Homo sapiens: one gene and its partners. The protein of the gene in region 1 interacts with the protein of each later gene in a biochemical or structural test. Each region holds a gene or a part of one and is shown on either strand. Other genes may lie near its edges. The genes, in order: LATS2, MOB1A, MOB3A and MOB4.

Region 1 (7,503 bases):
GGCTCGTTGGGGCCCGCACGGAGGCTCTGCTCCATGCCTGCGCACAGGCTGTCCAGGTCGTACTGCTCCGACTTGCTGCGCAGCAGCAGGTGCTTCGGGTAGGGCGGAGGCGGGCACCTCCGGTCTGGGCCTCCGTACTCCACGTCCAGCGGGAAGGCGCCTGCGCCGCCCAGCGCCAGGGCATGCTCCTCCTTGGCGTCCAAGCCCTCCGCAGCCGGGGCGGGGGCGGGGGCGGGGGCCGGGGCAGGCGCGGGCACCCAGGCGGGGTGCGAGGGCCCCACAGCCGTCTGCGGCTCCGGCCTCAGCACACGCACGCTCTTCACCGGGTGCAAGATGTGCGCGGCCGTGACAGCCGTCACGGTGTTGGGGGCGGGCAGGGAGGGCTCGGCCTTGCCAGGCGGACCGGGCCGCGGCTGGTGGCTGTTGAAGGAGTTGGTCCTGCTGGGCACTGGGCAGTCAGGCCGGAAGGCCACGTGCGCGCGCGGCGGCGCCTCCAGGCCCGGCTTCTGCAGGGAGTCCCGGCGGGCCAGGGTGGCAGCCGGCCACTGCTGGACGGAGGTGCTGCCCAATTCATACAGGTCCACGTTGAGGCTGTTCCGCGAGGGAGTGAGCAGGCTCTGCGGGGGGCTGTCGCTGGCGAACACCTGGCTGCGGGAGCCCAGCACATGCAGCTGGTGGGCCGCGGGACCGGCCTGCTTGTGGTGTGGGTGCGGCACGTAGAGCCCGGCGGCAGGGGGTGGGAAAGCGAGGCCGGCGCCTGGCGGTCCTCCCTGGCCCTTCGTGGGCAGGCTGGCGTAACCCCCGGTCTCCGGCGGCGTCTTGCTCTGGAAGGAGGGGCTGCGCTGCACTCCGTAGCCCAGGGGTTCCCCAGGCACCAGCAGGTGCGGCCGCCCGTAGTGCGCGCCCTGCAGCGGGAAGTGTGCCCCTGCTGCCTCTACGCTGGCACCGTAGCCCTTGGGTGGGTGCTGGTGCTGGTGGCCGGGCCCGTGGGGGCCGACTCCGGGGAAAAGGTAGTCCACGTACGGCCGCGGCATCTCCTCCAGCGCCGTGGGGCCGTCAGCGCCGAAGCTTGGGCCCTCGTAGGGGGTACCGCTCAGCTGGTGGTAGGACGCAAACGAATCGCCGGTTCCTTCGAAGCTGGGCCTCCGCGTCACTGGGGTTGGCATGAGCCCCTTTCCTGCAGTGGAAAAAACAGGAAGACAGCATCAGAGTGGGTGTGATCAGTGGGTTCTGGCACTTCCAGGCTGGTCCCCACTCTAGCGCTGCCCTCGGGGCTGAGGGTCTTGAACCCTGGGCCCTGACGTGCTGCATTCTGCCCAGCACAGGGTCAGTGGACTCCCCTCTGCCCTGCCAGCAGGACCAGTTGCCCTAATGTGTTAGCAGAGTGGAGACAAGCTGAAGGGCACATGGGAGGGCCAAGGGCAGAAGAGAAGACTGCGTCCACATCCCGAGGTGCGTCCCTGCCCCCTGGGGACCACACTGGGGTCACTCTCCTGTCAGGCTAGGGAGCCGTCTGCATAGCCAGCTTTGCTTTTTCAAAACCCTATCATGCCCAAATTGTGGGGGGCTGAGTTTACCGACACACGGTTCCCAAAGCGCTGCTCCCTCACAGAAAGGGCAGAACTGTATCCACTGTGCAGCAGCTGCTCCACTTCTCTTTCACCTCTTTTCCAAATTAAAAGACTTTCTAGTTTTTTTTGTCTATATTAAAACAAAGCAATATATACACAATAATAAAAACCACACAAAACCCCTCTACAAATATCCAGATTGATTTCATCTGCTGCTACCTTAATCCTGACCTCCATTTTGTACATCTCATCTGAAACAGACACCGGAAGGAAGGACAAAGGTTCCTTTCATTTCTTCAGGCCAACTGCTCCACTTGGCTCGGCTTAGCAGAGGGTGCCGAAGGGTGGAAAGGCTGGGCCTTGCCCACAGGAAGACCACCCCGATACCTGGCAGAGTGAAGGCCCTGACAGCCTGGCACTGAACAAAGGTCACAGGCACACCAAGGCTTTGTTTTCCCTGGGCCCAGAAGACGTCAGTGAAGAGACACACCAAAGGCAAGTGCAGAGGGAAATCAGCACGGAACATGGGCCTGGCCTTCCCTTTGAGCTGTGCTCTAAGGCCTCAAAACTGGAAGAATTCTGACATGGATGGCCAGCTGGGGGCTATTTAAGGAAGTTCCTTCTCTTAAGAAGAAAACAAAAATGTGTGTCCTTTTAACAATGGAGATATAACTTACAAAGGTGAGATTTTTCTCACCCACATGAAGTAGGTTTTATCCAAGGTCTTCCACAAAATAGGGAAAACTCTTGCTAATTACTAGGATTTTTTTTTTTTTTTTTTTTTTTTTTAAATACAGACGAGGTCTCCCTCTGTTGCCCAGGCTGGTCTCCAACTCCTGCCTCCATCCTCTGGCCTCAGCCTCCCAAAGAGTTGGGATTACACAAAACAAAACAAAGCAAAACAAAACCAGGCCACACAGTGTTGGGTTACAGGCTTGAGCCACTGCGCCTGGCCATGAATCCTTTATCACACCCCAGGGGCCTCAGGTACCAATCACAGGGCCCATGTGCTCCATCTTGGGAAAGTAACATTCATCCATAGCCAGTAAAAAGCAGGGGTTTGGTGCGGTGCCTCAGGCCCATCACAGGGGATGCTGAGGGGGGCCCAGCGCTCTGCCCACACTGCCTGCCATTGAACCCCCACTCTCAGAAGCTACGATGTGAGAGAGGTGTGTTTTAGAATTGAGGAAAGAAGCCACCCTTGTCAAAGATCCCTCCACAGGCCCAAGAGAAAGTGAAAAGACCATTTTTACGCCCGCTTTGCTGACTTTTTTGATCTTTCATAAAACAAGCACACACCTTCCCCTAGGTAGGAAGTACTAAGGTAATTTCAGACAAGGCTGGATGGGGCAAGCGCCAGGCGTGTCCCACGGTCTACCACTTGGGGCTGCTCCCGCCAGGGCCTGACTCTGTCAGGGCAGGGCAGGCTCAGCTTGCCTGTTAACTGAATGAGGCAATGTGCCAGGAGACTGGCTCTGGCCAGGCCAGGCCAGGTTGGACCCCTCTGCACGTGGTTTTGTTGTCCTTAAGCCACAAACCATCTTTGCCCACTATGCTGCAGGCCTGGGCTCACCTGGGGAGGTCTGCTTAATGACCCGCACAATCTGCTCATTCCTCGGGTCCAGGTAGCCCATCTTGCTGATGTACTCCAGGGCGGCCTCGATGCTCCTGCTGCCAGTCTGCTTGAGAGCTCGGCCAGCCATCTCCTGGGAGGGAAGTAAAGGAGAGGTAAGTGCATGTCATCCTAAAACAAAGCCACCAAAGACTCCCATCCCCACTCCGTGCTGGACTGTGCTGGGACACTTCGCCTCTGTACTGCTGAGAACCTGCGATATGCTGCAGGAGACCCTCAGAATGAGTGCAGGTGGCTGTGTGCCCTGCAGGTACCTGATGGCAAAAGCCTAGCACAAGCCACACCATAGACTATTTAGCCTTATGTCAAGGACATATGGGAATTTTGATGATGGGCCTGAAAGAGACTTAAATTCTGCTTCTCCTCAGAAAACTTTTGTGGTTGGACTGGTGAGTTCAGGATGAACCTAAAACTAGAAACATTTAAGGGGAAGAACTGTGGGAGTCAGGGAACCTGGCTTTAACCTCAGCTCACCTCCAGGCTAACTCTGGGACTAGGAAACCTGTCCCCAGGGAGAGGGTGCAGCTGCCGAAGAGTCATATATTACACGCCTACTGTTTACAATGCCCCATGCTGGCTATAGCAGCGGAGGACTGGCCCTTAGAGATCTGACTCGTAGAAGAAAGAAAGGAGACAAAACAGGGGCCCATGGAGCCACACCGGTCCAGGACAGGTAGCTCAAACTGCTTGTGGGAAGAACACAGGGACTGGTGGCCACCACGGGAGAGGGCAGGTAAAATGGATGAGGGCCACAGGAGAAAGCCTCCTTCCACCCGAAAGATGAGGTGGTGGCATGGCTAGCTGTTCCAGACTTTGGGCAGGTGGAGAGCCCTGGGAGAGAAAAGGCATTCCTGGCAGATGGGACAGCCAGAGCAGAAGCCTGGGGAAAGATGGGCCCATGGCAGCAGCACGCAAGGGTAGGTGGAGATGGGGGGATGGACCCACAGATGGGGGCCAGGCTCTCCAGGGTTTTGCTCCTGTCTGCAGGCATTCGAGGAAGCTTTCAAACTGGGACATACGGCATCAGCAGGTCAGGCTGGGGGCGGCTGTGGGTGCAGAGCTGGAGGCACTCAGATGGGGGAGACAGAATAGGCAGGAGGGTACCGAAGAGATGCAGCCCAGTGGCGCGGGGCGGTGAGGCTCTGATGAAGGCGCCCCCTTCACCTTTCAGGACAGCTCCGCAGAGCTGTAGGCAAACAGGGAGGGTGAGCAGAGAGAAAAGAACACCGTTGAGGCTGGCTGTGGGACAAGGGCAAAAACAGGCAAAGGCCACAAAAAGGGCTTCAGCAGAAGAAGAAAGGCTGAGCACTCTGAAGGTCAACGAGGAGGGCAACCAGGCAGGAGGAAACTGAAAATGTAGAACGGGGAGCTCCGGAAAGGAGTCCACAGTTACCCAGACAGCAGAGAAGAAAGGGGTGGAGATGGCTGGGCGTGGTGGCTCACGCCTGTAATCCCAGCACTTTGGGAGGCCGAGGCAGGTGGATCAAGAGGTCAAGAGATCGAGACCATCCTGGCCAACATGGTGAAATCCCGTCTCTGCTAAAAATACAAAAATTAGCTGGGTATGGTGGTGTGTGCCTGTAGTTCCAGCTACTCAGGAGGCTGAGGCAGGTGAATTGCTTGAAACCTGGGAGGTGGAGGCTGCAGTGAGCCGAGATCACGCCACTGCACTCCAGCCTGGCGACAAAGTGTGACTCCATCTCCAAAAAAAAAAAAAAAAAAAAAAAAAATGGGGGGGTGGAGATACAGAAAGACCCCGGACAGTGGGGGAGGCCGTGCAGGGCTGCTCTGCAGCAGGAAGCCTGGCCATGGTCACAGAGCCACTCCGCAGAGAGAGATGCAGCACTGAGTGTCCCCCACCTCTGGATAGGGCATTGTGGTGCCCATGATCTGAATCGCACTCAGCTGTGTGTCTGTGGTTCCCTTAGGACAAGAAGAACCTGGCAGGGCCTGAATCCATGTTACTCATGGTTGCTTCTGCCCCCTTAACACAGTGCCTAGAACAAATTAAGCACTTATTGTCCATATATGATGGTCTAATACTGAATCAAGCTTTCCAGTCCTGGCCATATGCCAGCAGAATGGCAGCACAAAAAACACAGGCTGTAAACTGTGTTCTTAGCAATGCAGGCGTGGGCATGGCAAGATGGCAGGGACAGGCAAGGGGCTGCAGAGGAGCACGAGGTGGAAGGCCTGGGGAGGTGCCGCCACATGGGCAGGCCATGTTGCCTGCCCATGTGGGACATGGGACATGAAGTGACAGATTGGAAAATGGTAATAAGAACAGACCTGTTTGTTAAAGTGGCGCCTGGACTACCAGAAAGGGCAAGTGTTTACAACCTGGAAGAGTTGCAGAGAGAAGGCAGCGGTGGTTCAGAAGGGAAGTGCTTCCTGACCCCACCTGGGACAGGAGATAAGACTCCCACCACCGCCTACTTCGGGAGCTATGCGATGAGATCACGTCTACGAAGACTCAACAGCTTGGAGGAAGACACGATATAAGACCACATCTTTGTGGGATCACCCTGGAGCTTTTGGCGCCCATTAAAAAAATGTGCCAATTGGGGCTGACTCTAACCACAAGCCTTTCCATCAGCACTAACCGTTCAATTGCTTCATCTGAAACGTGACCAACGCTCTGTCTCCTGCAGGGTGAATCACCAGCCTGTGCTCATTAACCCAGTACCTGTTGACTGCCAAGGAAGGGACAGCTCCAGGACAGACTAGGTCAATGTGGATGTTCTCAAATTCCCTCCCTGTTTATGGAGCACCCACTACTCAAGATGTGTATGTTTATTGTGCATCAAATCTAGGAACTCAGAAAAATCAGCAAGGAGACCACAAGTGAAGACTCATGTTCAGAAGGGAGTTTCAAGTCCTAAAAGTGAACCGTACTCATGAGCCGGCTTGTTTATAAATAAACCCTTCAAATAACCCATGTCCTTTGAGGCTTGCCCTTGTTATCTGTCCATCAACCCTTCTTTAGCAAGTAAGTACTTCCTATCTGTACATTAAATCTCAGAAGATGCTACTGTACATATACATAGAGCTATGTTTTAAACACTGAAGGAAATGGGAATCCACTTCTAAATCCATCAGAAATACATGGCCTCTGGGCACAAAGTACATGCAGAGTCACAGAGTGAAGACAAGTGCACAGTCGGGGGAATGGCAAGAGGTCGGAGCCAGGATGCGGGAGGAGTGTGTCAGAGAGATGCAGCTGAAGCCTGGCCGAGGAGCTTGGCCACTCACCTTCCTTTCTTAAGCATGTATGGAGACCAAGCTGGATGTGGTGGCTCATGCCTATAATCCCAACACTTTGGGAGACTGAGGCAGGAAGACTGCTTGAGCCCGGGAGTTTGAGGCCAGACTGGGCAACACAGTGAGACCCCGTCTCTACACAAAAATAGCTGGGTGTTGATGGCGCATGCCTGTAATCCCAGCTACTGAAGAGGTTGAGGCAGGAGGATTGCTTGAGTCCAGGAAGTAGGGCAGGCTGGGCAACAAAGTAAGAATGTGTCTCAAAAAAAAAAAAATAGAATAAAATATTTTTTAAAAGAAGAATGTATAAAGATCATCATTTAAGGGTCCTTATCTAGAATCGTAGGTGGCTATTCCAAAAGATGGCAGGATGGCGCAGTGGTACAGGGCGCAGATAGGGAGGCCACACACCTAGGTTCACCCCTCCCCTCTGCTGCTTAGCAGCTGTGTAACTTTCAGCAAATCATTTCCTTACTTTGAGTGCCCGTTTCCTCATCTGGGAAATAAGGCTAATAGGTTGCTCTAGGGATGAAAGGAGATGTCATGCTTGGGCATCAGCATCACTTAAGGGTTAGCTGTTACAGTTCACAAAGGTATCTTATGTGTTTCTGGGAAAAAAAAACATAAAAACTGTAATTGTAGATTTTATGCATGTTTGATATTTAATGGCTCTAATGTTTTACTGTGTATTCTTCTTACAATAATTATACAAAGAAATGTAATGAGTTCTTTTCCCCAAGCCTCAATAGACACCTCCAGTCTCTTCCAGCTTACCTCAGGCTGCTGTGTAAACATTATCCACGTCTATGCATGCCAAGATGTGGAAAGGGTGAGCAGCCCTGCCCCAAAGCAAGAGTTCAGCTGCAAGCCAACTGAAGGCGAGGACAGTTCAGGTATGTGTTCTGGTGTCTAGCGTGTAGAAAGAGATCAGCAGATATCTGTTCAATGAATGATTGAGTGAGTGACTGAGTTAGACTGTGACATAGGATAGATGAAAGGAAGAAAGAGCTGCAAGCAGGGAGTAAGAAGATACTGTCT
Region 2 (7,503 bases), on another chromosome or scaffold:
TCTCTATTGAAAATTTTAAAAAATTAGTTAGCCATGGTGGCACACGCCTGTAGTCCCAGCTACTCAGGACGCTGAAGTGGAAGGATCCCTTGAGACTAGGAGTTCAAGGTTGCAGAGAGCTGTGAGGGTACCACTGCAGTCCAGCCTGGACAACCCTGTCTCGAAAAAATAAATAAATAAAAAGTTTTAGTCTCCTGTCTAAAGAAGTACCTAAAAACAACTAGGTATTTTCCAAGTTTCTTAAAAAACAAATAGATTTTTTTAAAATGCTATCTTGTAAAAGGAATTTTATACAAAACTCCCTCACTTATAAATCTTCCTCTTAGTCATGTTTCTAAGAAAGTAACACTTAGGTATTCAATATTCACTCAAAACAAAAAATATGCCCAGGTGGAAGTTGGTTTGGTCTAGAAGAGCTATTCTCAAAACGTGGTCCAGGAATCCCCTATCTGAGGGAGGATCTGTAAGGTCAAACCATTTTAATTGTTCTTTTCACTCTTACTCTCTCAAGAGGGCACAATGGTGTTTTCCAGAGGCTCCATGATGTGTAATATCACAACAGACTGAATACAGAAACGGATATAAGAATCCAGGTGTCTATTAAGCCAGACATTAAATAAGATTTGCAAAAATATAAAACAATGCCATACTTCTCACTAAAATTTGTTATGGAAAATAGTCATTTTTCGTAAAAACATATTTATGGTAACATGTAATGGGTTTATTATTGTTATTTTAAAATGAATTTGGGCCGGGTGCAGTGGCTCACGCCTGTAATCCCAGCACTTTGGGAGGATGAGGCAGGCGGATCACTTGAGGCCAGGAGTTCTAGAACAACCTGGCCAACATGCCAAAACCCCGTCTCTACTGAAAATACAAAAATTAGCCGGGCATGGTAGCACATGCCTGTAATCCCAGCTACTCTGGAGACTGAGGTGGGAGAACTGCTTGAAGCCAGGAGGCAGCTGCAGTGAGCCAAGATCGTGACACTGCACTCCAGCCTGGGCGACAGGGCGATACTGTCTCGAGAGAAAATAAAAAATAAAAATAACTATTTACATCTTCTCAGTTTTAATTTCCAACAGAGTATCACGAGATATACCCAATATAATTAAAAGCTCTTTGGGGTTCTCAATAATTTTTTTTGTATTTTTTGTATTTTACCTTGTTTTTCCCCCGACTGGGTCTCACTCTGTTGCCCAGGCTGGAGTGCAGTGGTGCGATCTTGGCTCACTGCAACCCCCGTCTCCCAGGTTCAAGCAATTCTCCTGCCTCAGCCTCCTCAGTAGCTGGGATTACAGGTGTGTGCCACCACACCCAGCAAATTTTTGTATTTTTAGTAGAGCTGGTGTTTCACCATGTTGCCTAGGCTGGTCTCGAACTCCTGACCTCAAGTGATCTGCCAACCTCAGCCTCCCAAAGTGCTGGGATTACAGACATGAGCCACCATGCCCAGCTTGTATTTTACTTTTTTAATTAACACAGAATGGTACATATTTATGGGAATCAATAATTTTTTAAGAGGGTAAGTGGATCTGAGACCAAAAAATTTGAGAACTGCTGATCTACAGCAGTTAAGTCTCAAAGAAAAATCTAAGGCTGAAGGTCAATAAATGACTTCAGAATAACAGATGATAATCTGAATAAAGTTTTGTTTGTTTGTTTGTTTTTGTGTGTGTGTGTTTTTTTAAGATGGAGTCTTGCTCTGTCGCCCAGGCTATAGTGCAGTGGCACAACCTCAGCTCACTGCAACCTCCACCTCCCGGGAAGTGATTCTCCTGCCTCAGCCTCCAAGTAGCTGGGACTACAGGTGCGTGCCACCACACCTAGCTAAATTTTTGTATTTTTAGTAGAGATGGGGTTTTACCATGTTGGCCAGGATGGTCTCAATCTCCTGACCTCGTGATCCGCCTGCCTCGGCCTCCCAAAGTGCTGGGATTACAGGCGTGAGCCACCATGCCCGGCCCTGAATAAAGTTTTTTAAAAAAGGTTTTTTTTTGGCTGGGTTTTTTCCAGCACTTTGGGAGGCCATGGTGGGTGGATTACCTGAAGTCAGGAGTTCGAGACCAGCCTGGCTAACATGGCAAAACCTCGTCTCTACTAAAAATAGAAAAATTAGCCAGGTGTGGTGGCGGGCACCTGTAGTCCCAGCTACTCAGGAGGCTGAGGCAGAAGAATCACCTGAACACAGGAGGAGGAGGTTGCAATGAGCTGAGATCGCGCCAGCCTGTGCGACAGAGCAAGATTCCATCTCAAAAAAAAAAAAAAAAATTAGCAGGGCATGGTGGTGTGAGCCTGTAGTCCCAGCTACTCGGACGGGTGAGGTGGGAGGATCACTTGAGTCCAGAAGTTGAGGCTGCAGTGAGCTATGATCATGTCACTGCACTCCAGCCTGGGCAACAAAGCAAGACCCCATCTCTGAAGAAAAAAAAAGAGATTCAAGAAGCATACACACAGGCCTCTTTGGATCCTGATTTAAACAAAGCATAGATTTTTAAAGCAAAAAAATTTTAAAAAGAAAACATTTGGCCAGGTGCGGTGGCTCACGCCTGTAATCCCTGCACTTTGGGAGGCTGAGGCGGGCAGATCACTTGAGGTCAGGAGTTCGAGACCAGCCTGGCCAACATGGCAAAACCTCCTCTCTACTAAAAATACAAAAATTAGCCGGGCGTGGTGGCGGACACCTGTAATCCCTCAGCTACTGGGGAGGCTGAGGCAGGAGAATTGCTTAAACCCGGGAGGTGGAGGTGGAGGTTGCAGTGAGCCAAGATTTCGCCACTGCACTCCAGCTTGGGTGACAGAGCAAGACTCCATCTCAAAAAATAAAATAAAAAAAAAATAAAAAATAAAAGAAACATTTATGGGACAGTCATGAAAAATGTGAACACTGACCAGATATTTGATAAGTTAAAGGAGGATGGCATTGTCATTATCTTTACAAGTTCTTGTCTTTTAGACATACCTTACTGAAATATTTATAGATAAAACATCATGTCTGGGATTTGCTTAAAATAATCAGGGTGACATATAGAAGAAGAAAAATTGGTCACAAACTGATATTTGTTGGAGCTGGGTAATGGAATGAATACCTGGAATTCACTGTACTTAGTCTACTTTTATATGTTTGAAATTTTCCATTAAGAAGTTTTAGGCTGGGCGTGGTGGCTCATGCCTGTAATCCTAGCACTTTGGGAGGCCAAAGCAGGCAGATTGCCTGAGCTGAGGAGTTCAAGACCAGCCTGGGCAACATGGTGAAACCTTGTCTCTACTAAAATGTAAAAAATTAGCTGGGTGTGGTGGCGTGTGCCTGTAATCCCAGCTACTCAGGAGACTGAGACAGGAGAATGGCTTGAACCCGGGAGGTGGAGGTTGCAGTGAAGCAAGATTGAGCCATTGCACTCCAGTCTGGGCAACAGAGCAAGACTCCATCTCAAAAATAAATAAATAAATAAATAAATAAAAAGTTTTAAACTTTTTATTTAAACTTTTTATTCCTGGAACATCTGAAATCTCTAATTTAAACTTTATTACCCAGAAATGATATCATCTCAGAAATGAGAGACTCTCACATTCAAATCTCTAGCCTTAGCATATTGTCCCATGTCATGCACTTGTTCTCTTGAACTTAAAGTGACTTTCAGCTCAGATCCCTCCATTTTCTCCCAATCTCTCAATTCCCTCTGCCACTCTAAGTCACAACAATCAACTGTCCATATGAACTGCAATTGACTTTTCTGGATATGCAGGCTGATGAGTACTGCTGGGAGTGGAAGTAAAACTGTAGATGGATTTGCTACAAAGTCACAGACCACAACAGGCATAATCTTTTCATTTATCAATCTTTTATCTGACCTTACTCAGCTTTTCATACTATTCTTCTTAGAAATTGCCCAAAAGCACTCATCATTTCTCCTCAGCTCCCTCTACTCAACCTCACAAACTACCACCTAGTACTCTGAAAAGAGCAACATAGCTTTGGATGTATTTGTACTTAATGTTTCTTTACAGATAATTTGTTATATTAAAACAGTTCTAACTGTAAAAGAAAATTCATTAACAAAGAGATTTTAGCAAAACCTTTCTAGAAAACAGCAAAGTTACATTTTAAAACTTACTGTTCACAGCAATCCATTCATTGAGATCCTCTCCCTCAGGCAACATAACAGCTTGTCTCAGATTCCCACTTCCTAGAGTTGCTTCTGCATGTTTTAAGAGTTCATACTGATGAGATCCTTCAGGGATATTCTTCTTTGGTTTGAATGTTTTAGAAGAGCGGCTGCTGCTGTAAGATTAAAAGTGCAAGTATATGAATTTTTAAGACTGGAAGTAGAACAGGTAGAACAACATAATTTTAGGTATATAAAGTAGCCTGTAAAAATAAAATAAAAAATACTCTCTGGGCCAGGCATGGTGGCTCATGCCTGTAATCCCAGCACTTTGGGATCACCTGAGGTCAGGAGTTCAAGACCAGCCTGACCAACATGGTGAAACCACACGTCTACTAAAAATACAAAAATTAGCCAAGCATGATGGCGCACACCTGTAGTCCCAGCTACTTGGGAGGCTGAGGCAGAAGAATGGCTTGAACCTGGGAGGCAGAGGTTGCAGTAAGCTGAAATCGCATCACTGCACTCCAGCCCAGGTGACAGAGCAAGACTCAGTCTCAAAAAAAACAAAAACACTCTCTGAAAAATGCCAAGATAGGAAGATGATGATCACAATACAAGAATGCTTTTTTTCCCCTGCCTGTAAAAGCAAGATTAGCAGCACAATTCCACAAATAAGGCAATTTTACTATGCCCTCTGAAGAAGTCTGGTACAGAGAAACATCCTGGATTTTAGTTCTTGATCTGACACTAACTGTGTCTTCTTGAGAAACTGAACCTTCTTTTGGCCTCAATTTCGGTTTTTTTTTTTTTTTTTTTTTTGAGATGTAGTCTTACTCTGTCACCCAGGCTGGAATGTAGTGGCACAATCTCGGCTCACTGCAATCTCCACCTCCTGGGTTCAAGCGATTCTCCTGCCTCAGCCTCTCGAGTAGCTGGGATTATAGGCATGCACCACCACACCCAGCTAATTTTTTTTTTTTTTAGTAGAGATGGGATTTTGCCATGTTTGCCAGGCTGGTGTCGAACTCCTGACCTCAAGTGATACACCCGCCTCAGCCTCCCAAAGTGCTATAGAAAATGATGGGGCCATGCCGGGCGCGGTGGCTCACGCCTGTAATCCCAGCACTTTGGGAGGCCGAGACGGGTGGATCACGAGGTCAGGAGATCGAGACCATCCTGGCTAACACGGTGAAACCCCGTCTCTACTAAAAATACAAAAATTAGCCGGGCGTGGTGGAGGGCGCCTGTAGTCCCAGCTACACGGGAGGCTGAGGCAGGAGAATGGGGTGAACCCGGGAGGCGGAGCTTGCAGTGAGTCGAGATCGCACCACTGCACTCCAGCCTGGGCGACAGAGCGAAACTCCGTCTCAAAAAAAAAAAAAAAAAAAAAGAAAATGATGGGGCCATGGCTAGGTGCGGTGGCTCACACCTGTAATCCCAGCACTTTGGGAGGCCGAGGCAGTGGATCACGAGGTCAAGAGATTGAGACTATCCTGCCCAACATGGTGAAACCCCGTCTCCACTAAAAAACAAGTACAAAAATTAGCTGGGCGTGGTGGCACACGCCTGTAGTCCCAGCTACTCGGGAAGCTGAGGCAGGAGAATGGCTTGAACCCAGGAGGCGGAGGTTGCAGTGAGCCAAGCTTGCACCACTGCACTCCAGCTTGGCAACAGAGTGAGACTCCGTCTCAAAAAAAAAAAAAAAAGAAAAGAAAAGAAAAAAGAAAATGGTGGAGCCAAGTGCAGTCGCTCACACCTCTAATCCCAGCCATTTGAGAGACCAAGGCAGGAGGATTTCTTGAGCCCAGGAGTTTGAGACCAGCCAGGACAACATAGTAAGGCGGAATGGGGGGTGGGGAAGATAAAAAGAAAATGGCGCAGGGAGGTTTAGTTCAAAAATCCAGTATTCTATATCAAAATATTTGAGACGCCTTGAAAGCAAACCACAGTAAAAGAAACACTAACATCTTTAAGTTTATAATAGGGAAAATAAATGAGACAGGCACAACTCGTTATTGAGGAAAAAATGTTTTTATTCCTATCTCACACCATCCATAAAGTCTTCCTGCACAAAACTCAGAAACCTCAAAGAAAAAGTGGACAGATTTCAAATAGTATCAATTAAAACTTTCATAACAGAGCAAAAAGACAAGTAACCAAATAAAAGTACTTGTAACATATATTACAAAGGATGAACTGGATAATAGAGGGCTTCTGTAACTCGTTAAGAATATAAGGAATCCTTTAGAAAAATAGGCTAAGGAGATGAATAGGCAATTCAGAAGTATGACAATCAATGAGCATGAGAAAAACTGTTCAATTAAAGTAAGATTTATTTTTTCCCTAATCTGAATGTCAAAAGTTTAAATGATTACATTAAATGTGGACTAGGGTAGGGGCCCCCAACCCCAAGGACACAGACTGGAGCCCACAGAAGGAGATGAGCAGTGAGCAAGCAGCAAAGCTTCATCTGTATTTACAGCTGCTCCCCATTGCTGGCATTACCACCTGAGCTCCACCTCTTGTCATATCAGCAGAGGCATTAGGTTCTCACAGGAGCGTGAACACTACTGTGAACTGTGCATGCAAGGGATCTAAATTGCATGTGCCTTATGAGAATCTAAAGCCTGATGATCTGTCACTCTCTCCCATTACCCCCAGATGGGATTGTCTAGTTGCTCAGAGCTCCCACTGATTATACATTATGATGAGTGGTAGAATTATTTCATTATATATTCCAATGTCATAATAGAAATAAAGTGCACAATCAATGTAATGCATTTGAATCATCCAGAAACCATCTCCCCAACCAGATCTGTGGAAAAATTGTCTTCCACAAAACTGGTCCCTGGTGCCAAAAAGGTTAGGGACCACTGGACTAGGGTACAGAGAAACTAGTATTTTAATACACTACTGGTGAAAGTATAAAGTGTAACATTTTGGGAGGGCAATATGGTAGTATCTATTAATACTGAAAAGCTCCTCAAGCCATCCATTCTACTTCTAAATATCTCCTCTAGATATGGATAAGAATTTTTTTCCAAGATTGTTTTTAATAGGGAGAAACCTAGAAGCAATCCTCAAGTTTATCAGTAGAGGATTGAATTAAAGTATGGTACATCCATATCATGGAATATTGTATAGAAGTTAAGAAAACCAGACAGAGTACACGTATTCACAGGGAAAGATCTAATACATGGTTAAACATAATACACAACCAAACGTACAGCAGGAGCCCATTTTGTAAATACATAGAAAATATCAAAAACTAAACTCATCAAAACTGGTGATTACTTCTAGGAAGAGGAATGGAATAGAACTATGGACTTTTACTTTACCTGAGTAATTTGGAATTTAAATAAGACTGATTAAGAAGTAAAAAAGAGCCGGGTGC
Region 3 (7,503 bases), on another chromosome or scaffold:
CCCTTGAGACCTTCTTCCACCTAGGCTGCCATGCACAGGCTGCGGGCATTGCGGTGTGGCTTCCTTTGTGGAGGCCGTAGTCCGGCCATGCAGTCCCCTGTGACTGGCATCTCAGCCTGCCCCACACTCAAGCCCCACAGTGCTGGGTAGCAGCAAGTCTAGGTCCGGGCCAGGCATCGGCACCGGGGAAGATGCGGCCCCTGCGGGCTCTTGGGGCCCGGCTCTGCGCACCTTCTGCTGTGAATCGGTCAGGCCTCGCCACGCGCAGTTCTCTTCTGTCCACTGAGGAGGTGGCCCCCTTTGGGTGAAACTCCTTAAAGTCAAAAGTCCAGGGGATGTTTTGAACCCTGCCACTAGTGGCTCACACCTGTAAGCCCAGCACTTTGGGAGGCAGAGGTGAGAGGATCATGTGAGCCCAGGAGTTGGAGACCATCCTGGGCAACATAGTGAGACCTCGTTTCTACTAAAAATAAAGAAACTTACCCAGGTGTGGTGGTGTGTGCCTATAGTCCCAGCTATTCAGGAGGCTAAGTTGAGAGGATCGCTTGGGCCTGGGAGGCAGAGGTTGCAGTGAGCTGTGATGGCACCACTGTACTCCAGCCGGGGCAACAGAGTAAGACCCTGTCTCAAAAAACAAAACAAAATCCTGCCGCTTGTGCCCTCAGCACGAGTTTCCGGGAAATTCTGTCGCCTCCAGCAGGTCATGATTCCCCTGTGTATTTCAGGTCCGCGGGAGAGCTGTGGGGCTTGGTGAGTGTTTCGTGGCCTCTCGGGTTGGTCAGCACCCCCAGCCAGCTGGCCCAGGACCCCTCTACAGAAGTCCAGGAGAGCAGGCGTCACCAAGATGTCCAACCCCTTCCTGAAGCAAGTCTTCAACAAGGACAAGACATTCCGCCCCAAGCGCAAGTTTGAGCCAGGCACCCAGCGCTTCGAGCTGCACAAGAAGGCGCAGGCGTCGCTGAACGCCGGGCTGGACCTGCGGCTGGCCGTGCAGTTGCCCCCGGGCGAGGACCTGAACGACTGGGTGGCTGTTCACGTGGTGGACTTCTTTAACCGCGTCAACCTCATCTACGGCACCATCAGCGACGGCTGCACGGAGCAGTCCTGCCCCGTCATGTCGGGGGGCCCCAAGTATGAGTACCGCTGGCAGGATGAGCATAAGTTCCGGAAGCCCACGGCACTCTCCGCGCCCAGGTACATGGACCTGCTGATGGACTGGATCGAGGCGCAGATCAACAACGAGGACCTCTTCCCCACCAACGTTGGTGAGTCAGAGCTGGCAGGGGCTCGGGGATACAGAGCCTTCCAGAAAAGTCAGGGAGGCCGAGCACAGTGGCTCACACCCGTAATGCCAGCGCTTTGGGAGGCCGAGCCCAGGGATCGCTTGAGCCCAGGAGTTTGAGCTCAGCCTGGGCAACATAGCAAGATCCCATCTCTACAAAAAATTTTAAAAATTAGCCAGGCATGGTGGCACACGCCTTTGGTCGCAGCTACTCGGGAGGCTAAGGTGGGAGGATCGCTTGAGGCTAGGAGGTTGAGGCTGCAGTAAACTATGATCGTGCCACTGTACTCCAGCCTGGGTGACAGAGCAAGACCCTGTCTCAAAAAAAAAAAAAGGATTCCATTTCTGAGTATTCTCCTAAGTTGGGCTGCTCTTAGTAGCCCCCCTTCATCCTGAATCACTCCTGGTGACTCCTGTCTCCTCACCCCAAAGCAGAGAATGACAGGATCAGCATCAGGCCTGGAGTCCTTCGCAGAGGAGACAAGCACCCCTGCCAGTGCTGGGCCCAGTGTTCTCAGTGGTTTCAGAATCACTGCCATGGAGCCCCTGGGCCCACCAGGATCATCACCCCGTTGGCGGGACCCCCTGCCCAGCTCGATGTGTAATGCACTGCATGGCTCTCAGGGACACCCCATAAACGTGGGTTTGAGGATGATCATTAGGGCACGTCCCTCCAGAGTACAGCGTACCTTTCTTTTCTTTTCTTTTTCTTTTTTTTTTTGAGACAGTGTCTCACTCTGTCACCCAGGCTGGAGTGCAGTGGCACGATCTCGGCTCACTTCAACCTCTACCTCCCAGGTTCAAGCGATTCTTCTGCCTCAGCCTCCTGAGTAGCTGGGATTACAGGCATGAGCCACCACACCCGGCTAATATTTGTATTTTTTAGTAAAGATGGGGTTTCTCCATGTTGGCCAGGCTGGTCTCGAACTCCAGACCTCAAGTGATCTGCCTGCCTCGGCCTCCCAAAGTGCTGGGATTACAGGCGTCAGCCACCGCGCCCGATCTGCCAGCAATTTCTGTCTGGAAGCCCCTTGTCACATCCAGGAGCAAAGGGTTCTGGACATGGACTTGGCTGAGTCCGTGGACCCGTCCCACCCCTCTCCCTGCAGGCACTCCGTTTCCCAAGAACTTCCTGCAGACGGTGCGGAAGATCCTGTCGCGGCTGTTCCGCGTGTTCGTGCACGTCTACATCCACCACTTTGACCGCATCGCGCAGATGGGCTCCGAGGCCCACGTGAACACCTGCTACAAGCACTTCTACTATTTCGTCAAGGAGTTCGGCCTCATCGACACCAAGGAGCTGGAGCCACTGGTGCGCGGGCTTGGGGCTGAGGGCGTGCGGTTACGGTGGGGCTGGTGGCCCGTGGCAGAGGAACCCTTCCGGGGCCAGGACCCTGACTGCTTGCGGTCGGCCCAGCAGCTGGCGGCCCCGGCTGGAGTTGGGCCCCGGGGACCCTGCTGATGGGACAAGTGGTGAGGTAGCTGGGAGGGATCCTGCGTTCTCCCACGGAACAAATGCCGGCGACAGGTGCAGTTTCCTCCGCGCCGCCCCGCGTCCAGCTCACTCCGCCTTCACCGTCCTGAGCTCAGGTGTCCCAGAGCGCCGCTCAGTGTCCCTTATGAAAGGGATGCGAGCCGGCACAAGCAGACTCCACCCCGACTTTTTTTGTTTGTTTGTTTTTGTTTGTTTTGAGACGGAGTCTCACTCTGTCACCCAGGCTGGAGTGCAGTGGTGCGATCTCGGCTCACTGCAACCTCCGCCTCCCGAGTTCAAGTGATTCTCCTGCCTCAGCCTCCCAAGTAGCTGGGATTACAGGCACGCGCCACCACGTCCAGCTAATTTTTTGTGTTTTTAGGAGAGAGGGGGTTTCACCGTGTTAGCCAGGATTGTCTCGATGGATCTCCTGACCATGTGGTTTGCCCATCTCAGCCTCTCAAAGTGCTGGGATTACAGGCGGGAGCCACTGTGCCTGGCCTTTTTTTTTTTTTTTTTTTTTTTGGAGATGGAGTCTGCCTCCCTCACCCAGGCTGGAGTGCAGTGGCGCCATCTTGGCTTACTGCAACCCCCACCTTCCGGGTTCAAGCAGTTCTCCTGCCTCAGTCTCCTGAGTAGCTGGGATTACAGGCACGTGCCACCACACCCCGCTAATTTTTGTATTTTTAGTAGAGACCAGGTTTTGCCATGTTGGCCAGGCTGGTCTCAAACTCCTGAACTCAGGTGATCTCCCTGTCTCGGCCTCCCAAAGTGCTGGAATGACAGACAGGAGCCACCGCACCTGCCTAGATTCCACCCGACTTCTGTAGCCAGCCGGGTACCTCTGCATCTGCCCTAGCCTGTCTGCTTTCCACGTTACCAGGTTTTATCGGGAGACGAACCCAGGGACCAGATTCCTCGGTGTGGGGTCCACATCCCTGAAGCCAATGTTGCTTCTTGAAATTGGGGCCCACAATTGTGTCTCGGTGATGGGGACCAGCAGTGGAGTGGGTGCCCGTGATTCAGGGCCTGGCACTGGAACCTGCCCAGAGGCTGCATTGTTCCCCAGGCTGCTGGGCGCTGTATGGATGTGGGGATCCTGATGTGAGAGCGGGACCCCACCAGCCTCCGAGTAGCTGGGACCACAGCCAGCACGCCCGGCTGATTTTTTATTGTGTGTAGAGATGGGGTCTCACTATGATGCCCAGGCTGGTCTGAACTCATGGATGCAAGCAATCCTCCCACCTTGGCCTCCCAAAGTATTCAGATGACAGGTGGGAGCCACCACTCTCTTACAACTTTAAAAAATGGTTAAAAATGGACGGACGAGGTGGCTCCCACCAGTAATCCCAGCCCTTTGGGAGGCCAAAGAGGGAGAATCACTCGAGCTCAGAAGTTTGAGAACAGCCTGGACAACATAGTGAGACCTCATCTCTACAAAAAATGAAAAAAATGAGCCAGGCACAGTGGTGCGTGCCTGTGGTCCTAGCTACTCAGGGGGCTGAGACAGGAGAATTGCTTGTGCCTGGGAGGTTGAGGCTGCAGTAAGCCGAGATCACGCCACTGTAGTCCAGCCTGGGTGACAGCCAGTAACCTGTCTCAAAAAAAAAAAAAAAGAAAAGAAAAGATTAAGGCCCGGCGTGGTGGCTCACGCCTGTAATCCCAGCACTTTGGAATGCCAAGACGGGCAGCTCATGAGGTCAGGAGTTCAAGACCAGCCTGGCCAACATGGTGAAACCCCATCGCTACTAAAAATACAAAAAATTAGCTGGGCATGGTGGCACGCGCCTGTAATTCCAGCTACTCGGGAGGCTGAGGCAGAAGAATCACTTGAACCCAGGAGGCAGAGGTTGCAGTGAGCTGAGATCGCGCCATTGCACTCCAGCCTGGGTGACAGAGCAAGACTCTGTCTCAGGGGAAAAAAAAAAATTAGCCAGGCATGGTGGTGGGCACTTGTGATCCCAGCTACTCAGGAGGCTGAGGCAGGAGAATCGTTTGAACCCAGGAGGTGGAGGTTGCAGTGAGCCAAGATTGCGCCACAGCTCTCCAGCCTGAATGACAGAGTGAAACTCCGTCTCAAAAAAAAAAAAAGACTAAAAACATCTTCACATAACTTCCTCATTTTTGTGCATCCCCTTTCAGGCTTTGCTACTGGTAAACATTTTGCTAAATTTAAAATTAATAGTTGCATACTCAGTGGCTCTAAAGATGGTAGTGGGGTCTTCCTCTTTTTTCTTTCTTTTTCTTTTCTTTTTTCTTTTTCTTTTTTTCTGTATTCCAGAACTTTCCTTCTAGTGTCCCAGTCTGTATAAGACAGGGATCAGCAAACTGCAGCCCTCTGGCCTGGCTTCCTGTTTTTGTAAATAAAGTTTCTGGGGTTTTTTTGTTTGTTTGTTTGTTTGATCTCAGCCACTGCAACCTCCACCTCACAGGTTCAAGTGATTCCCCTCCCTCAGCCTCCTGAGTAGCTGGGACTACAGGCATGTGCCACCATACCTGGCTTATTTTTTTGTATTTTTAGTAGAGACGGGGTTTCACCATGTTAGCCAGGATGGTCTCGATCTCCTGACCTCATGATCCGCCCACCTCAGCCTCCCAAAGTTGTTTTTTTCTTTTTTGAGACAGAGTCTCGCTCTGTCACCCAGGCTGGAGTGCAGTGGCGCGATCTTGGCTCACGGTAACCTCTGTCTCCCAGGTTCAAGCGATTCTCCTCCCTCAGCCTCCTGAGTAGCTGGGATTACAGGTGCCTGCCACCATGCCAGGCTAATTTCTATATTTTTAGTAGAGACAGGATTTCACCGTGTTATCCAGGCTGGTCTTGAACTCCTGACCTCAGGTGATCTGCCTACCTCTGCCTCCCAAAGTGCTGGGATTACAGGCGTGAGCCACCAAGCCTGGCTGTAAATACAGTTTTATTGGCAGCGAGGTACACTTGTGAGGTTACCATCGTCTGAGGTGGCTTTTGAGGTACAAGACAGAGTTGAGCCATCATGACAGGGACCGTCTGGCCCACAGATCTGAAAATGCTGACTCTCTGGCCTCATGGGGTAGCCTGCTGCCCCTGGTCTCAGGTGTGCCATTGCCTGTGTGGTTTTTGTTGTTTGGGTGTTCAGGGAAGCCCCCAGCTGCCGTTTCTCTGCCTGTGCGTCTCCGTGTGTCTGCTGTTCGCATCACCCCTTTTAGGAGTGGCTGGTGGGAGCTGATGTCTTGCTTGCTCTTTACAGAAAGAAATGACCGCCCGGATGTGCCACTGAGAGCCCCGCGGGTCTCCCGGTGCCCGAACCGCCGCTGGGGCCTCGGAGACTTGGAGGAGGACGCTCTGGAACCATCATCCCGCTTCTCTCCGGCCTGAGCATCTCAGGGAGACCAGGGGCCGAGCCGCTGAGCAGGTGTTGGTCCTCAGGAGCTCCAACCCCGGACGGCAGATGCCTTCCTCAGTCTCGAGCCTCAGTCTCCCGTCTGGGACTAAAACGTGAACTCTGTAATTCTATGTGTTACTAGCAACCGGAAAAGCCCACTGTGTTTTTAAACCACTTCCACTTTCCAGGAGGCTGGATGGCTTCCAGGGTCACTCCTTGCCCTGGGTGGCTCCCAGGCTCCTGGAACTTCTGCCTCCACCTCGCTGGGGAGCCCCCAGGGCTGCTGTGGCCACAGCCCTGCCTGGGCCTGTCTCTCAAGGGCACCCAGCTTGCTCGGCCTCCTACATGTCTCCCGTTGGGGAGGCAAGAGGCTGAGGGGCTTCCGAGCCCCTGAGAGCGGACATCTCCTCCCGCAGGCCTTTACTCCGCACTCCCCACTGGCAGCCGCTGGTGTCTCTTCACACAGAGGCACAACCTGGACCCAGGCAGCCTCTTTCCTCCCTCCCCAATCTCTTCCATTTTTCTACAGATTTTTTTTTTTTTGGTCATACTAGAGACAGGGGTCTCGCTGAACTCCTGGCCTCCAGTGATCCTCCATCCTCGGCCTCCCAAAGTGCTGGAATCACAGGGGTGAGCCACCGCACCCAGCCCTCTCTCTTCCTCAATGCACTCTGCTTCTTCCGTTCTTCCGAAACATTCAGCTGACTGTATCCAGGGCTTCCTGGACTCCTGGGACCCCACGTCCTGCACCCCGGCTTCTGACTCATTTCCTAAGGGCCCCTTTGTGTATCATAAAGGGTTTGATTTTTATAGTCACATTTACAACCATCTTGAGATTTTTATTTTTTTTGAACGGAGTCTCCCACTGTCGCCCAGACTGGAGTCCAGTGGCACAATCTCGGCTCACTGCATCCTCCACCTCCTGGGTTCAAGTGATTCTCCTGCTTCAGCCTCCCAAGTAGCTGGGATTACAGGTGTGCGCCACCACGCCCAGGAAATTATTGTAGTTTTAGTAGAGACAAGATTTCACCATGTTGGCCAGGCTGGTCTCAAACTCCTGACTTCAGGTGATCCGCCTACCTTGGCCTCCAAAAGTGCTGGGATTACAGGCATGAGCTACTGCACCCGGCCTAACCAGGCTGGAGTGCAGTGGTGGGATCTCGGCTCACTGCAAGCTCCGCCTCCCAGATTCACGCCATTCTCCTGCCTCAGCCTCCCCAGCAGCTGGGACTACAGGCACCCACCGTCACACCCGGCTAATTTTTTTGTATTTTAGTAGAGACAGGGTTTCACCGTGTTAGCCAGGATGGTCTTGATCTCCTGACCTTGTGATCCACCAGCCTCAGCCTCCCAAAGTGCTGGGATTACAGGCGTGAGCCACTGTGCCC
Region 4 (7,503 bases), on another chromosome or scaffold:
CAAGTTCCACGTCCCGGGTTCACGCTGTTCTTCTGCCTCGGCCTCCCGAGTAGCTGGGACTACAGGCGCTAACCACCACGTCTGACTAATTTTTTTTTGTATTTTTAGTAGAGATGGGGTTTCACTGTGTTAGCCAGGATGGTCTGGATCTCCTGATCTCGTGATCCGCCCGTCTCGGCCTCTGAAAGTGCTGGGATTACAGGCATGAGCCACTGCGCCCAGCCAATTTTTTTTGTATTTTTAGTAGAGATGGGGTTTCAGCGTGTTAGCCAGGTTGGTCTCGAACTCCTGACCTCAAGTGATCTTCCCGCCTCAGCCTCCCAAAGTGCTGGGATTACAGGCGCAAGCCACCACGCTGGGCTTCATAGTTGGTTTTCAATAAATGTTTGTTGGTTGAATTAGATGAGAATCTTTATTAAGCTGAATTTTTGGTGTCTCTCATAGGCATCTAAAATATGTCACAGTTATGAGAAGGCGAAACATTTCATTCTCAACATCTTTTCTATATATAGTCATCATTGGTGTCCTCTGGGGATTGGCTCCAGGATAACTCCGTACCCCCACCCCATACCAAAATCTGAGGATGCTTAAGTTTCTTAAGTAAAATGGCATAGTGTTTGCATATAACCTATGCACATTCTGTTATATAGTTTAAATCAACTCTAGATTACTTAATAATACCTAATGCAATGCGTGTTCTGTAAATAGTTGTTATACTGTATTTAGGGAATAATGACCAAAAAGAAAGCCGGTACATGTTTAGTACATACGCAACTATCTTAGACCTAACTAGGTACATAGTACATGTCAGCAACAATATAACATTTTCTGTATTTTTTTTCTCCCCTGAAATGAATATTTTCAATTCCTGGTTGATTGAATCTGCAGATTAAACCTGCAGATATGGAGGGCCAACTGTACATGTGTTTTCTAATATTTTAAAAACAACATTCTGTAAACTTCCTTAGTTTTTTTAAAAAGGAAAGAATAGACAGAGTATTGGTAGAAACTTTAGATCATATAGGAAAAATTTTAGAATTGCTCTTTAATAGATAATGTCTAAGAAAAGGAATCCTGGAACCATTTCTAGAAGATTGTTTTATTTCTTGATATTTTCCTTTAATAAAATTAGTTCATTTTCATCCAGATAGGCCAGCTATTTCAAAAAAGATGAAATGTTTAAGACACTTAAAAAGGTGTACTCATTACCTACTGTCCAAACGGGGACATTGCTACTATAGTTGAATCCTTATGGAAGACATTCTCTGTCTTCTACCCTATCATTCCTTTTCTTTTCTGTATACTTTTACTATATATGCATTATATCCATAAGTATGCCTTGCACTTAAACTTTTTTTTTTTTTTTTGAGACAGAATCTCGCTCTGTCTCCCAGGCTGGAGTGCAGTGCTGCACTCTCGGCTCACTGCAAACTCCGCTTCCTGGGTTTGCGCCCACCACCACGCCTGGCTAATTTTTTGTATTTTTTCATAGAGATGGGGTTTCACCGTGTTAGCCAGGATGGTCTCGATCTGCTGACCTCATGATCCGCCTGCCTCGGCCTCCCAAAGTGCTGAGCGTGAGCCACCGCGCCCGGCCTAAACTTTATTCATTTTATATACACTGTGTTTACTTCTAATTTGCTTTTTTTGCTCAAGGTTTTGAAGACTTAATCTTTGTTGATTGTTTTTACAGGTTTATATACAGGTTTATAGATTATTGGTTTACTCTTACCTCCTCCCCACCAAGTTTTACCTCAGAGACATTTGAGCTTCAAAGATGTGTCAGGCATTGTGCTACCCACTGAGGTTACATAGGTAAACTTTTCTGAAAAATCAGTCAAATGGAAAGGTTCTTAATCACTTAGGGGAATATCTGTTAACTGTATTATCTACAGAGAATTCCAGAACCAGGGCAAGATGCTCTATAAAAATATCCCCCTTAAGCTGGGCATGGTGGCTCATGCTTGTAATGCCAGCACTTTGGGAGGCTGAGGCTGGAGGATTGTTTGTGACCAGGAGTTTGAGACCAACCTGGCCAACAAAGTGAGACCTCGTCTCTTAAAAAAAAAAAAAAAAAAAAAAAAGAAGAAGAAATAAAAATATTCCCTTTAACAGAAAGCTGGTTTATTTGATGTTTCCTTCTCTTTTTAAAATTTTTGTGGGTATATAGTAGGTGTATATATTTGTAGGTTACATGAGATATTTTGATACAAGCATGCAGTGTATAATAATCACATCAGGGGGGTAAATGGGGTATCCATCACCATAAACATTTGTATCGGGGAACCTGCCCCGATAGTCACGTAGGTTCTTTTCTATTTTCCCTAAGCATCAGCCAGTTTGAGAAATGAAGGGACAGAGTACAAAAGAGAGAAATTTTAAAGTTGGGCGTCCGGGGGAGACATCACATGTCGGTGGGTACCGTGATGCCCCACAAGCTGCAAAACCGGCAAGTTTTTATTAGGGACTTTCAAAAGGGGAGGGAGTGTACAAATAGGGTGTGGGTCACAAAGATCACGTACTTCACAAGGTAATAGAATATCACAAGGGAAATGGAGGCAGGGCGAGATCACAGGACCACAGGACCAGAGCAAAATTAAAATTGCTAATGAAGTTTCGGGCACCATTGTCATTGATAACATCTTATCAGGAGACAGGGTTTTGAGAGCAACCGGTCTGACCAAAATTTATTAGGTGGGAATTTCCTCTTCCTAATAAGCCTGGGAGCACTATGGGAGACTGGGGTTTATTTCACCCCTACAGTTTCGACCATAGAAGACGGCCATACCCAAGGGGGCCGTCTATAGACCCACCCCCAGGCGTGTATTCTCTTTCCCAGGGATGTTCCTTGCTGAGAAAAAGAATTCAGCGATATTTCTCCCATTTGCTTTTGAAAGAAGAGAAATATGGCTCTGTTCCGCCCGGCTCACCAGTGGTCAGAGTTTAAGGTTATCTCTCTTATTCCCTGAACAATTGCTGTTATCCTGTTCTTTTTCCAAGGTGCCCAGATTTCATATTGTTCAAACACACATGCTCTACAGTTTGTGCAGTTAACACAATTATCACAGGGTCCTGAGGTGACATACCTCCTCCTCAGCTGACAGGATTAAGAGATTAAAGACAGGCCTAGGAAATCACAAGGTATTGATTGGGGAAGTGATAAGTGTCCATGAAATCTTCACAATTTGTGTTTAGAGACTGCAGTAAAGACAGGCATAGGAAATTATAAAAGTATTAATTTGGAGAACTAATAAATGTCCATGAAATCTTCACAATCCACATTCTTCTGCCGTGGTTTCAGCCGGTCCCTCAGTTTGGGGTCCCTGACTTCCTGCAACACATTTGTCCTTTATGTTGCAAAAAATTAGATTCTTTTAGTTTTTTTTAAATGTACAATTAAATTGGTTTTTACTATAGTCACCCTATTGTGCTAGCAAATACTAGGTCTTATTCATTCTTTCTATTTTTTTTGTACCCATGGGTGATTACCTTTTTTTTTTTTTTTTTTTTTTTTTGAGATGGAGTCTTGCTCTGTCACCCAGGCTGGAGTGCAGTGGCGTGATCTTGAGTCACCACAGCTTCCGCCTCCTGGGTTCAAGCAATTCTCCTGCCTCAGCCTCCTGAGTAGCTGGGATTACAGGCGCACGCCACCATGCCCGGCTATTTTTTGTATTTTTAGTAGAGACGGGGTTTCATCATGTTGGCCAGGCTGGTCTCGAACTCCTGACCTCAAGTGATCCTTCCGCCTCGGCCTCCCAAAGTGGTAGGGTTACTGGTGTAAGCCACCATGCCCAGTCTGATGATTACTTTTTAATGGTGCCCATATTTTGATTTAGAAATTCAAAACTCTATTTGGAATGAGAATAATAATTTATAATTTCTTTTTAAAATAATACTTATGGGTCGATCATGGTGGCTCACGCCTGTAATCCCAGCACTTTGGGAGTCTGAAGTAGGCGGATCACGAGATCAAGAGATTGAGACCATCCTGGCCAACATGGTGAAACCCTGTCTCTACAAAAAATACAAAAATTAGCTGGGTGTGGTGGTGCGTGCCTGTAGTCCCAGCTACTCGGGAGGCTGAGGCAGGAGAATCACTTGAACCCAGGAGGTGGAGGTTGCAGTGAGCTGAGATCGCACCACTGCACTCCAGCCTGGCGACAGAGTGGTCTCAAAATAATAATAATAATATTAATAATAATAATTATGGAGCAGTAAATTAGCTACTAATGCTAGATATTCTCTTTTGGTAAAAATCTGATTTACTTTTTGGTGTCTGGAGTTTTTTTTTCATTGTAACTTTTTGAGAGATATTTAACCATCATAAAAAAGTGATAGACTTGTCTCCCCAATTAAGTAATACATTAAAGGTTTATGGGAGCTGTATTTGAGGAATCTGTGATTGGAAAAAACGTAATTTATAGTTCAATTAAATAAAATCTTAATATTCATTTAAAAAACATTAAACAGCCAGGCGCAGTGGGTCAGGACTATAATCCTAAGAATAGGGTGGCTAAGGTGAGAGGCTGAGGTGGGATGATTGCTTACACCCAGGAGTTTGAGGCTGTAGTGAGCTATGATTGTGCCACTGCACACAAGCATGGGCTGCAGAGTGAGACCCTGTCTGTAAAAAAGAAAAGTTGAATAAAATTTATTTCCTTATTTCACTGATAATTACATTGCAAAAGTTTTTTCTTCCCCTCTAGTGTGAGCTTTGGGTCTTTATTAAGAATTGAAGTTAATCATAATAGTATTTTGTATGTGCTTTAACCGTGAATTTATTTTTATAGGATTTCTATAATTGGCCTGATGAATCCTTTGATGAAATGGACAGTACACTAGCTGTTCAACAGGTAATAAAAATAGTTTCTTTTCACCCTGTGTCTTTTGGAGTACGATGTGTAAGTGCCCATTGGGTGGCCTTTGTCTGTTGGTCACTGTGCAGCAGTCTGCTTCCCAATAAAGCGTGCTCTTTCACAAAACAAAACAAAATAGTTCCTTTTACAACTCCAATAACCTAAGCATTTTACCTCTGACATAGTTAAGTATTCTTATATCTTTTCGCATAGAGAAGATTCCACTGAATTAATGGAATGCCTATTTAAAAGTTTAGTCAACCCTCATTTTGTTTTAAGATGGCATATTAAGCTGGGCACTGTGGCTGCCAGCACTTTGGGAGGCCAATCACTTGAGGCCAGGAGTTCAAGACCAGCCTGAGCGACATAACAAGACCCTGTTTCTACGAAAAGATAAATTAGCCAGGCATGGTGGCACACACCTGTAGTCCCAGTAGCTAGGGAGTCTGAGGTGGGGAGATCACTTGATCCTACTTCAAGGGTCTAATGAGCTATGATTGTGCCACTGTACTTCAACCTGGGTGACAGAGTGAGATCTTGTATCTTAAAAAAATAAAAATAGCCCAGGTGTGGTGGCTCACAGCTGTAATCCCAGCATTTTGGGAAGCCGAGGCAGGTGGATCACTAGGTCAGGATATCAAGACCATCCTGGCCAACATGGTGAAACCCTGTCTCTACTAAAAACATAAAAAATTAGCCAGACATGGTGGCATGTGCCTGTAGTCCCAGCTACTCGGGAGGGCTAAGGCAGGAGAATCGTTTAAACCCAAGAGGCGGAGGTTGCAGTGAGCCAAGATCATGCCACTGCACTCCAGCCTGGCCAAAAGCAAGACTCTGTCTCAAAAAAAAAAAAAAAAACAAAAACAAAAACAAAAATACAATTTCATTAAGGGGCTAATAAAAAGATAATATAAATTGGAGCGTACTAGTATATTGGATTAGGCATTGGTTAAATTTTTTTTGTTTTGAATTTTTAGTAGAGACAGGGTTTTGCGATGCTGCCCACCTTGAACTCCTGGGCTCAAGCAGTCCACCCACCATGGCCTCCCAAAGTGCTGGGATTGCAAGTATGAGTCACTGCACCTGTCTTTTTTTTTTTTAGACGGGGTCTCACCCTGTTGCCCAGGCTGGAGTGCAGTGGCTCAAGCATGGCAAAATGTAGCCTCAACTTCCTGGGCTCAGGTGATTGTTCTACCTCAGCCTCCCAAGTAGCTGGGACTATAGGCGCACACTGCCACATCTGGCTGATTTTTTGTAGAGATGGGGTTTCACCATGTTGCCCTGGCTGATGATAACATTTTTAAAGGGAAAATATACCATAAATCGAGGCTGTTTGGCTTCATTTTGATAGCCAGATAATAAAAGTAGATAGCTGGCCGGGTGCGGTGGCTCACGCCTGTAATCCCAGCACATTGGGAGGCCAAGGCGAGCGGATCACCAGGTCAGGAGATCGAGACCATCCTGGCTAACATGGTGAAACCCCATCTCTTACTAAAAATATAAAAAAATTAGCCGGGCGTGGTGGTGGGTGCCTGTAGTCCCAGCTACTCGGGGGCTGAGGCAGGAGAATGATGTGAACCTGGGAGGCAGTGAGCCTGCAGTGAGCCGAGATCGTGCCACTGCACTCCAGCTTGGGGGACAGAGCAAGACTCCATCTCAAAAAAAAAAAAAAGTAGACAGCTATTCGGATTTGTTATGTTATTTGAAGATCTTAGAAAATAAAAGAGACATATAGTTGAATTATTTGAGCATTAAAAACCACCCATCTGGGTGTGGGGGCTCACACCTGTAATCTTAGTACTTTGGGAGGCCGAGGAGGGAGGATCACTTTGAGGTTGGGAGTTTGAAACCAGCCTGGACAATATAGTGAGACCCTGTCTCTGTAAAAAATAAAAAGGTTGGGCTAGGTGGCGTGCACCTGTAGTCCTAGCTACTTAGGAGGCTGAGGTGGGAGGAAAGGGTTTATGGTGAGCTGTGATTGCACCACTGCACTCCAGGCTGGTGACAGAGACCCTATCTCAAAAAAAAAAAAAAAAAAGAAAAAGTGCTGTTCAATCAGCAAATATTTATTGGCTTCTCACGATATAGCTAGCAATGAGTTAGGCCTTGTGGAAGATAAAGGAATATAAACCTAGATCTAGCTCTATGCCTAGAAATTGGTTAAATTTTGAAGAAAAATGTACAGATGGTTATCTCTTTAAAAATAGGGGGAAGTGTCCTGTTTGTTGAATTTGTTCATTTATTCTCACAGGTTTTTTGGATGTGAAATCATTAGGGTTTTCTACATACGAGACCCATGTCATATAATTTTACTTCTCCAATCTAGATCTGTTTTCTTTCTTTTTCTTGCCTAATTGCTCTGGCTAGACCTTCCAGTACTACTTTGAATAAAAGTGGTGAAAAAGGGCATCTTTGTCTTCTTCCTGATCTTAGAGGAGAGCTTTTAGTTTTTCACTGTTGAGTATGATGTTCACTATGGATTTTTCATATATGGTCTTTATTATATTGAAGTTGTTTCCTTTATTCGTAGGTCATTCAGTGCTTTTTAGATCATAAAATGGTGTTAAATTTTGTCAAATGCTTTTTCTGCACCTATTGAGATGATCATGTGTTTCTTTTTCTTACTTTTTTTATTTTTTTATTTTTT

The links.
Region 2: the proteins of LATS2 (region 1) and MOB1A form a complex in vitro, tested with the Homo sapiens proteins (one study listed by BioGRID).
Region 3: the proteins of LATS2 (region 1) and MOB3A form a complex in vitro, tested with the Homo sapiens proteins (one study listed by BioGRID).
Region 4: the proteins of LATS2 (region 1) and MOB4 form a complex in vitro, tested with the Homo sapiens proteins (one study listed by BioGRID).

What each region holds. Positions count from the first base shown.
Region 1 is NC_000013.11:20,988,128-20,995,630, forward strand, and holds part of LATS2 (serine/threonine-protein kinase LATS2), read right to left. Parts: intron 7,074-7,503; exon of another isoform or gene 6,962-7,073; coding exon of another isoform or gene 6,941-6,961; intron 3,278-6,940; coding exon 3,145-3,277; intron 1,178-3,144; coding exon 1-1,177. UniProt on the Homo sapiens protein: Negative regulator of YAP1 in the Hippo signaling pathway that plays a pivotal role in organ size control and tumor suppression by restricting proliferation and promoting apoptosis.
Region 2 is NC_000002.12:74,168,471-74,175,973, forward strand, and holds part of MOB1A (MOB kinase activator 1A), read right to left. Parts: intron 4,283-7,503; coding exon 4,116-4,282; intron 1-4,115. UniProt on the Homo sapiens protein: Activator of LATS1/2 in the Hippo signaling pathway which plays a pivotal role in organ size control and tumor suppression by restricting proliferation and promoting apoptosis.
Region 3 is NC_000019.10:2,071,902-2,079,404, reverse strand, and holds part of MOB3A (MOB kinase activator 3A), read left to right. Parts: intron 1-725; 5' UTR 726-844; coding exon 845-1,265; intron 1,266-2,391; coding exon 2,392-2,594; intron 2,595-5,980; coding exon 5,981-6,010; 3' UTR 6,011-7,503. UniProt on the Homo sapiens protein: May regulate the activity of kinases.
Region 4 is NC_000002.12:197,518,834-197,526,336, forward strand, and holds part of MOB4 (MOB-like protein phocein), read left to right. Parts: intron 1-4,790; coding exon 4,791-4,853; intron 4,854-7,503. Other genes in the region: HSPE1-MOB4 protein, read left to right, coding at 4,791-4,853.